Linked DNA regions of Homo sapiens: region 2 is reported to be linked to region 1. Evidence: microRNA targets listed by miRTarBase, many of them from high-throughput screens and not tested one by one. Region 1 holds a microRNA gene; the other region holds the end of a gene's coding sequence.

Region 1 (4,350 bases):
GAGGGGGGCCACACATTCTCTACGGACACTGTCCCCAAACAACTGTGGCATCTGACAGAGCCAACTCCTGCCCTGCTCCCAGTTCACCTTAGACCTGGGAAACGAGGTTTTGACTTCACTGCTCTGCATGGCCTGGTGCAGGGCTCCCGTGAGCAGACGGCCCATGGGCCACGAGCCAGGTATGTGGAAGAGCCTGTGCCTTCTGTCCTCCAGGCCGGCCCAGTCCAACGGCGTGGCTCAACTGAAACCACACCCAGAACTCGGAGAGGGGAAGACCTCGCGGTGGGGCGGGCCCAGGCCAAGCCCCTCCACTGCCATCACAGGTTTACAGCGGAGCAGAGGGGCAGGCCGGATACAGGCAGCCCAGGCCACAGGTCAGGGGACCCACACCAGGCCACAGGAACAGGCTTGCTGAGGGTATCAGAAAACCCCAGGTCACAGTGGTTTGAAAAAGAAGTTTATTTCTCAGCCATGTAGGCAGGAGGAGGCAGTCCAGCACTCGGTCACCTGAGGTCTCAGGGAGGCAGGCTCCATCTGCTGCCCCGTCATCCTGGTTCACGCCTCCCTCCTCATGGTCACCTCTGTGTTCAAGGAAGTGCTTGGCCGGGCATGGTGGCTCACGCCTGTAATCCCAGCACTTTGGGAGGCCGAGGCAGGCGGATCATGAAGTCGAAAAATCAAGACCATCCTGGCTAACACGGTGAAACCCCGTCTCTACTAAAAATACAAAAAAATTAGCCGGGTGTGGTGGCGGGCACCTGTAGTCCCAGCTACTCAGGAGGCTGAGGCAAGAGAATGGCGTGAACCGGGGAGGCGGAGCTTGCAGTGAGCCGAGATCACGCCATTGCACTCCATCTGGACTACAGTGAGACTCCATCTAAAAAAAAAAAAAAAAAGGAAGTGCTCAAGTTCAGGCCGGGGTAGGGTGTGTGCAGTGGCCTCCGTCAAGTGTGTGTCACCCCCAGGCAGCTCCCTGCTGCGCCTGGACCCAACTGTGCCCTTGGCTCACTCCATCTTGCTGGGTTTCCCATCTCTGTCTTACTGGCTGCTTTCAGAGACCAGGCCCAGAGTCCCCAGGACTCAGGTGACCTTGGCTACCCTGGAATCCTGGACTAAAGATCTGCAATAGAAATGTGTCCAGCAGGGAATGTAATGTGTCCAGCAGGGAACCATCCTGTTTGCTTTGCTTTTCTGAGTTCCTACAACCAACCGGCCAGGGCGCACTGTGGGGCACAGGGATGCAGGCCCTGGAGTATGGCCACTTCTGCCTGGGGGCGTCTGGGGGGTTTCCTGAGTGAGGTGGGGTCTCACCAGCTCCAGGAGACACCACTGCCATGCACAAGGTAGGTGTGGGGGTGGAGGATCACCTCCGTGAGGACCCAGACCCCACCCACTGTGGCTGTGGTGGAGACTGCAGGTCTGTCTCAAGGCCCCAGGCCTGACACCTGCAAGAACAGAACCTGGGGGTGACGGAGAGGGGATTCCACCAGGCCAGCCCGGGGCTTGAACCCCAGCCAGGGCAGCTGCTGTCTGCTGCCCCACCAGGTAACGCACCGACCCAGCTGCTGTTCAGCTCCCCCTCTGGGCCAGCACCATGCTCATGGCATAGGCCGGCTGGGCCCTCTGAGACCCCCACTCCCACACAGACTGGTCTGCATGGAGGCTGGTGCAGCCTGTGCCGTACAGACCCTGCCCGGCTGCACTACTGGCCAGAGCCCCCTGCAGACAGGCGGCTCGAGGGGAGCTCCACCATGCAGGAGATGGCCCAGCACTGCAGTCACTTAGGCTGCTCATCCCTCCCCGAACTGACATGTCCCTCCCTCCAGATGCCCCCCACCGCCGAACCCCAGCATGCTGGGCATGCTCTGGCCATCCCACACAGGGATCAGGGTGGGAGGGCTGGAGGCTGCCTGTCAGGGGCAAGGCCTCCTCCAGGAGGTAGGACGGGGTGGTGCAGGTGGGGTCCCCTCACCTGATGGGCCCTCGAGGCCAGGCTGTAGGCAGGCAGGAGGGGGCTGAAGCAGTGGGGTCAGGCCCGGGGAGCGGGGGCCCTGCCTTCCTTCCTCAACACACGGGGCTGCCCAGGCCCCGCTCCTGGGGCCGGGCCCACACCTCACAGACACTGGTGTTGGATGCTTCGGCTTGAAGGAGCTCCAAATGGACTAGCCGCAGCTGCCCCTGGGTCCACCTGGCCCAGGCAATACCACAGAATCACCAAGGCTCATCTAGCCATGGGCCCAAACCCAAGGCCCTAAGAGGCACCCCGGGTGCCTCAGTCACAGTCCCAGGCAGCTCAGGTCCCAGGCGGCTCACAGTCACCATCCTTGACTTCATGGTAGCAGAAATGGAGTGCTTTGAGCTTGTGATGAGCACAGGCTCCCAACCCTGGGAGAGTTCAGACATGCCCACTGGAGAGGCCCCAGGCCCTGATGATACCCACTCCTCAGACATGCAAACCTGGAGCCAGGGAGGCCCCAATGAACTGCATACTCTCCCAACAGACCAAGCTCACCCCACACCAGCGCAAGGCCCTTTCAGACCCAGCCTGGCCACCCCCATGGACCTGGCCAGCACCTCCCCCAGCCCCACCCTCTCCAGACAGGCACCAGGCTGTGGTGACCCGCCTCTCAGCAGCTCCTCCTCTGATGCCTCCCCACGGTCCAGTCGTTACCCCCTCGTCCACCTGACTGGGCTGCGCATGGCCTCAGTGCAGAGCCAGGTTTTAGTAGTGGGTAAAAGGGCTCCCTTGCTGTGCTTTACCAGAGAATGCAACACCCCCAAAGCTCCTTCATGACCCACTGTGACCTGCAGCACCACCAAGCCCATCCTCATCCCTGTGTCCCAGGCCACCAGCCTCTGAGGGCAGGCACTGCAGGAGCCACCGGGCCACAGAGGATGGAGGCAGGGAGGACATTCTGCCTTCATGAGGGCATGCTCTCAAAGACAGAGCCGCCCCAAACTGTCAGCAGGTGACCCTCCGCTCTGGGAAGGCAAGGGGAGGAGCTCAGGGCCGTGGCCAGAGCCCACGAGAAGCCCGTGCCCAGCTCAGCAGGTGACCCTCCGCTCTGGGAAGGTAAGGGGAGGAGCTCAGGGCCGTGGCCAGAGCCCACGAGAAGCCCATGCCCAGCACTGCAGGGCTCTGGCCACTGCCTAATGCCCTCCATGAAGCCCTGCCTGCCCTTCCAGCAAACCAGGGCCCCTGAGGCTCCAGAAACCCCAGCTCCACTGCCCTCAGCCTCCATGGCCTTAGCAGCCTGGCTCTGGGGCTGAGCTCCTGGAAGGGCAGGGTGGGGGTAGGCTCCTGAGTTTTATTTTCTCACATTTCTTCCAGACATGCTTCTGCTGATCCTCAAAATGGCAAAAGCCAGGATGCTCAATTCTCAAAGCTCAACAGCTGATGGCACATTTGATAACAAAAATCAGTAATATTTAGAAACAAATTTGATTAAATTCGTAAGTGCCTGAATAAATCATACTTGTAGATTTAATATAAAATGTGTGAAAGCTTATTCGCAGGCCAAATGACATTACTGCAGAGCATTAAAAACCAGCAGGGGGAGGGCTGTCGGCCCAGCTGGTGCTGCGTCACGCCCACCCATGTCATGTGGGGTCACCAGGCTGCCCCTGCCCACCAGGTGTCAGTGGGGCCCTGGGCATGGGCTCTAGGTTTGGGGCCTTTTAGCACCTCTGACCACTGGACTCCAATGCCACCTCAGAGAATTCCGCCTATGCCTGCCTGGACCACCGAGGCTGCCCCCTCCCCTAGCGCCGACTCTGGGGCCCCTTCAGCAGGGGGGCGGCCCCTCTGTTCCACTTAATCTTCCATGCCTGGGCACAGCAGGTGTGACAGTAATGCAGAGACTCTAACTCACTTTACATGTCATCAAACCCAAATCCAACGGGTACCCAAACCAGACTGATGGGCCTGCCAGCCTCCACCCACAGGAACACACTGGTGACTTACTGCAGCAGACTCGGGAGGTAGCTCCTCCTCCTAGCTGCCTTTGTCCCCAACTCCTTGGACATCCCTTAGCCCAGGGTGAAGGGTCAAGGGCACACTTGACACCCTCGGACAGGGCCAGAGGGAGTGGGTCTCGGCAGGAAGTCACCAAGAGCTGGCTTCCCACACAGGGAAGAGGGCAGTGATGGCAGACCACATCCCCACTATCTATCCATCCATTCACCCACCCACCCACTCCGGGTCACCAAGCTGCACCCTGTCCTTTGCTCTGACATCTAAAGTCTCCAAGTCATGCTGGTTCTCTCCTCCCAAAGATCGGCTTGGATCTGTTCCCTTCTCCCTTCCTTGCTGCCACGAAGCTGTTCAGACAAAGTCTGAAGCTCAGCGCA
Region 2 (4,350 bases), not on the chromosome of region 1:
AGAGTATACTACACTCAACATTACATTTCCACCTGAAATAAAAGGCATGTAATTGAGAATTTTCTTAAATATTTTTCATTTCTCACTTCTTCATAGCCCTAAAAAACTTCAGCTGGAAAAGCTAATGTCTTTCAGACACCACTTAATCAGCATGTTATTTTAAATATTCTTAAAGACAAATTTTTTTTCCACATTACAGATAATCTAGTTTTATAGGGAAAGCAGAGAAAAGGTCTTTAAATGTATTTTTAACCAAAGTAGGAAATACAGTCTGAGGCTCTAATTTGAGATTTGCTTATAAATACATCTGAAAAGGTTAACATTCTTTAAATTATTAGCAGAGGCAAATATATGAAGTGCCATGTTTTTGTCACCATCATCTTTCCACATTGATCAAGAAGTAAATTGAAAGAAACTAAACAAGACTTAGGGGTACAAAGCATGCTCCATAGTACTTGCAGATTTTGTCACTATATAGATTCCCTTAAACAAACTGAAACTGTCCTGCTAGTGAAAGGGTGTCTCATGATACCATTTGACTGTGTTTCAGGAAAACAGTGCATGTGCTTGGTGGATCTGGATCGAGCAAGAGCTGCAGAAGAATGTGGATACTCCGTTCAAGTGATATCCATGGAGCCAGAGAGCTGCTCTCCCAAAAATAACATGATTGTGGGAGTCCCCATTTAAAATGAGATATTCACATTTGATATTTTGCCATCCGTCTTCACGTTGGATGCCCAGTGGCATTCAGGAGGTTCTTGGCATAACTAGGAAACAGCATTAGCCATCTTGAACCTATTGTGCTCAGGAAGGAAAGCAACAGGGAAATCTTGGAAGTAAAGGCTCCCTGCAAAGCATCACAAATGCTTTACAATGTGTGATTAAAGGACTGCTGGTTTTTATAGTGAGAATCCCCTGAAGTCTCAGCTGCCAAAAGAATAATACTAGTGGAGGTTCCATCACAGGAATAACAATTTCCTTCTCACTTCACAAGCTCCTCTGATCTTGCCAATGTGATGTTTAATTCAAAACAGCGCACTTACAGCCTTTATTTTATACTTATTTAGATATTCACATGGGAACTGAAAGTAGACTCAGTGGAGTTTTTTGTTTTTTATATTTTTAACAATTGTACTTTTTCTATCACTTTAAAAAAATCTAGTCAGGTAATTATAGTACAGTTATTTTTAAGCTGGGGTTAGTTGAACTTGTATAGCATTTAATATACTCCTTTTAAATATATTTCTGCCAGGCATGGTGGCTCATGCCTATAATCCCAGCACTTTGAGAGGCCAAGGTGGGAGGATCATTTGAGCCCAGGATATCGAGACCAGCCTGCACTACAAAAAAATCCAAAAAATGAGGTGGGAGGATCACTTGAGCCCAGGAAGTCAAGGCTGCAGTGAGCCTTGATAGCGCCACTGCACTCCTGCCTGGGAAAATGAGACCCAGACTCAAAATAAATCAATGAATGAATTAATAAACAAATAAATAAATAAATAAATTTCCCATAAATTACCAAATGAGATTGTCACTGGTTCAAATTATTAAATAATTGCCATAAATTTCCTATTACGGGAATGTGGAATTTGGACATACATTTTAACAATAAGTACATTGATTAATACATTTAAGTTTATAAGTAATTATTGAGGATCCAGTATTTTCAAGACCTTGGCCTAGTTTCTTTTCAATTCAAAGATGAGTTGCAAAAGACATAATGTTTTGCCTATGGAAGTAGATCATCTAGAAGAAAAAGATTAAAGAATTAGTTAAGCTTTTTTTTTTTTTTTTTTTTGAGACAGAGTTTCACTCTTGTTGCCCAGGCTGGAATTCAGTGGCTCGATCTTGGCTCACCACAACCTCTGCATTCTCCTGCCTCAGCCTCCCGAGTAGCTAGGATTATAGGCACCTGCCACCATGCCCGGCTAATTTTGTTTGTAATTTTAGTAGAGATGGGGTTTCTCCATGTTGGCCAGGCTGGTTTCGAACTCCTGACCTCAGGTGATCTACCCGCCTCAGCCTCCCAAAGTGCTGAAATTACAGGCGTGAGCCACCTCACCTGGCCATGTTCTTTATGGAATACTACAATGTGTTGTCACAGGATTTGTTATTCAGATGTCAATCATTTTTATTTATATATTTCTGGGTAAAACTTATTAGTGGTGTGAGGAGTGCAGAATATGGAAGCTTACCTAAATTCTTTTTCTGCCAGCCAACATTTTAAAAGACAAATGATGCATCCTTTCTCAATGCTGCTAATTCTTTAAATTTTACATGTCCCAATTTATTCCATTTGAGATTTATTTTAATGTTTTCAACCCCTGTGTAACATGTATCATGAGGAGAAAGCACTATCATTGATCATCACTATGGATTAAAATATAGGAATATTTTACAGGGCAGTATGGGTGGGGGTGGGAGACATATTGGAATCGTGTTTTCTGGGATAAAATTTTTAAAAAGAATTAATCATTAGCCCTGAGTATTTTAGTCATTTGTGCCTATAGAAAACAACATGCTCTTTTATTGTGGACTTTCTTCTTTTAAGTGAGGTTTAATTTATATACAATACAATAACAGATTTTTAAGTATTCATTTGAGATGTTTTGACAACTGTATATATACATGTAACCATCACTGGAATCAGATATAGAATATTCCCCTTAAATATTGTCAGGTAAACACATTGAGAATATTTTTTCCAGTCTGTGGCTTACCTACTTATTTTCATAATGAATGTTTTACTTGTGATGAAGATTTAACTTACCCTTTTACTTTAATGATTAATATTTTCTGTGTTCTTTCTAATAAATTTTACGAACTCTGAGGTTATAAGATTTCTCCTAAGATTTTTTTTGTAGAAACTTTATGATCCTAGCTTATTACATTTAGGTCTATGATCGATCTCAAATCAAACTCACATATAAAGGCAGGTAGGTTTTGAGGAATATATAGTTGTTTCAGCATCATTAAATAAAAATCCCTTCCTCTCTTCATTGAACTGCCTTGGCACCTCAGTTGAAAATCAGTTCATCTATATGTATGGTTCTATTTCTGAATTCTCTAGTCTTTTCCATTAATCTGTTTGTTTTGATTGCTGTAGCTTTATAGTAAATCTGGAAATCAGGTAGTTTGTCTCCCAATTTTATTTTTCATTCTCTAGATTATTTTGGCTGTCTGGATCCATTGTATCCCCAGATAAATCGTAGAATTGACTTATCAATTTCTTTTTAAAATTTTACCAAAAAAGCTTGCTGGGATTTTTGATATTGCCTGTTCTCTTTAGATCAATTTGAGGAAAATGAATGTCTTAACAAGATTGAATCTTATAATCTATGAAGATATCTTTGCATGTGTTTAGGTCTCCTTTAATTACTCAGAAACATTTTGTAATTTTCTGTGTAGAAGATTTGTTTTATTTATTATGATTTTATTTTTTTGATGTTATTACCCTGAGCTTTTTACATGATGTTCCCTGTATTTAGAATAACCTCCTTTTACCCCTCCCACTAGCTTAATGTCATTCATCCTTCTGCTCTGAGACTTGACCTCCCTGGAATTAGGTATCTGTTATAAAATGTCTACCATCCAGAGTAGTCTTCTCAGTCCTCCCGAGGTGACTCAAGGTACACCCCCCCACCACCACCACCAAAAACAAAAAGCCTATCTGATGAGTATGGAGAACAAAAATAGAATGGGGAGCCGGGCGTGGTAGCTCACGCCTGTAATCTCAGCACTTTGGGATGCCGAGGCAGGTGGATCACTTGAGGTCAGGAGTTTGAGACTAGCCTGACCAACGTGGTGAAACCCTGTCTCTACTAAAAATACAAAAATAAGCCTGGTGGTGGTTGCATATGCCTGTGATCCCAGCTACTAGGGAGGCTAAGGCAGAAGAATCGCTTGAGCCTGGGAGGCAGAGGTTGTGGTGAGCTGAGATCGTGCCACTGCACTCCAGTCTGGGTGACACAGTGAGACCCTGTCTCAAAAAAAGAAAAATAGAAAGGGGACCCCATTGCTCTCCCATGCTTGATCTTGGCATGGCATTCTCCAGCTGTGATGTCTGCGGCTAGTAAGAGATATGGGTATTGTGATTGCTCTTCGGGCATTATTTTTCTATGTAAATCCTTGCCAATGCTTCTTCCCAGCCAGGGCAAATGAAAAGAGTTGGATGCAGGGAGCAGGAAGATTGTTGCAATGATAAAAGCCCAACAAGTGACCTGATCTTACCCTCACCTTTGTCCATCAAATGCAAGGCTACTGCTCACTGATCTATCTCTCCGAAGGTTGTAATAATATTAGAAACCACAGCTCATCTTTCATTGACTTTTGAGCCTGACTCAGAAACAG

The links. Region 1 holds the annotated microRNA hsa-miR-940 (AAGGCAGGGCCCCCGCUCCCC, at 2,038-2,058, opposite strand). A microRNA usually pairs through its seed, bases 2 to 8, with sites in the 3' UTR of a target mRNA and lowers its output. Matches are read on the target gene's strand: a 7mer-m8 pairs with bases 2 to 8, a 7mer-A1 pairs with bases 2 to 7 and ends in A, and an 8mer does both.
Region 2: miRTarBase lists GSTCD as a target of hsa-miR-940. Seed matches in the 3' UTR shown: 7mer-m8 at 1,429-1,435 and 7mer-m8 at 1,875-1,881.

Annotation. Positions count from the first base shown.
Region 1 is chr16:2,269,514-2,273,863 of GRCh38, reverse strand. MIR940 (microRNA 940) reads right to left here and starts at 2,117; the gene lies at 2,024-2,117. MIR3677HG (MIR3677 and MIR940 host gene) reads right to left here. Exons shown (of 3, transcript NR_132988.1): 2 at 1,973-2,188; 3 at 792-877. It overlaps MIR3677 (microRNA 3677), which reads right to left and starts at 3,151; the gene lies at 3,092-3,151.
Region 2 is chr4:105,844,891-105,849,240 of GRCh38, forward strand. GSTCD (glutathione S-transferase C-terminal domain containing) reads left to right here. Exons shown (of 12, transcript NM_001370181.1): 12 at 551-2,835. The coding sequence ends at 687. Among named protein-coding and RNA genes, the nearest start is that of GSTCD-AS1, 20 kb to the left of the region's middle.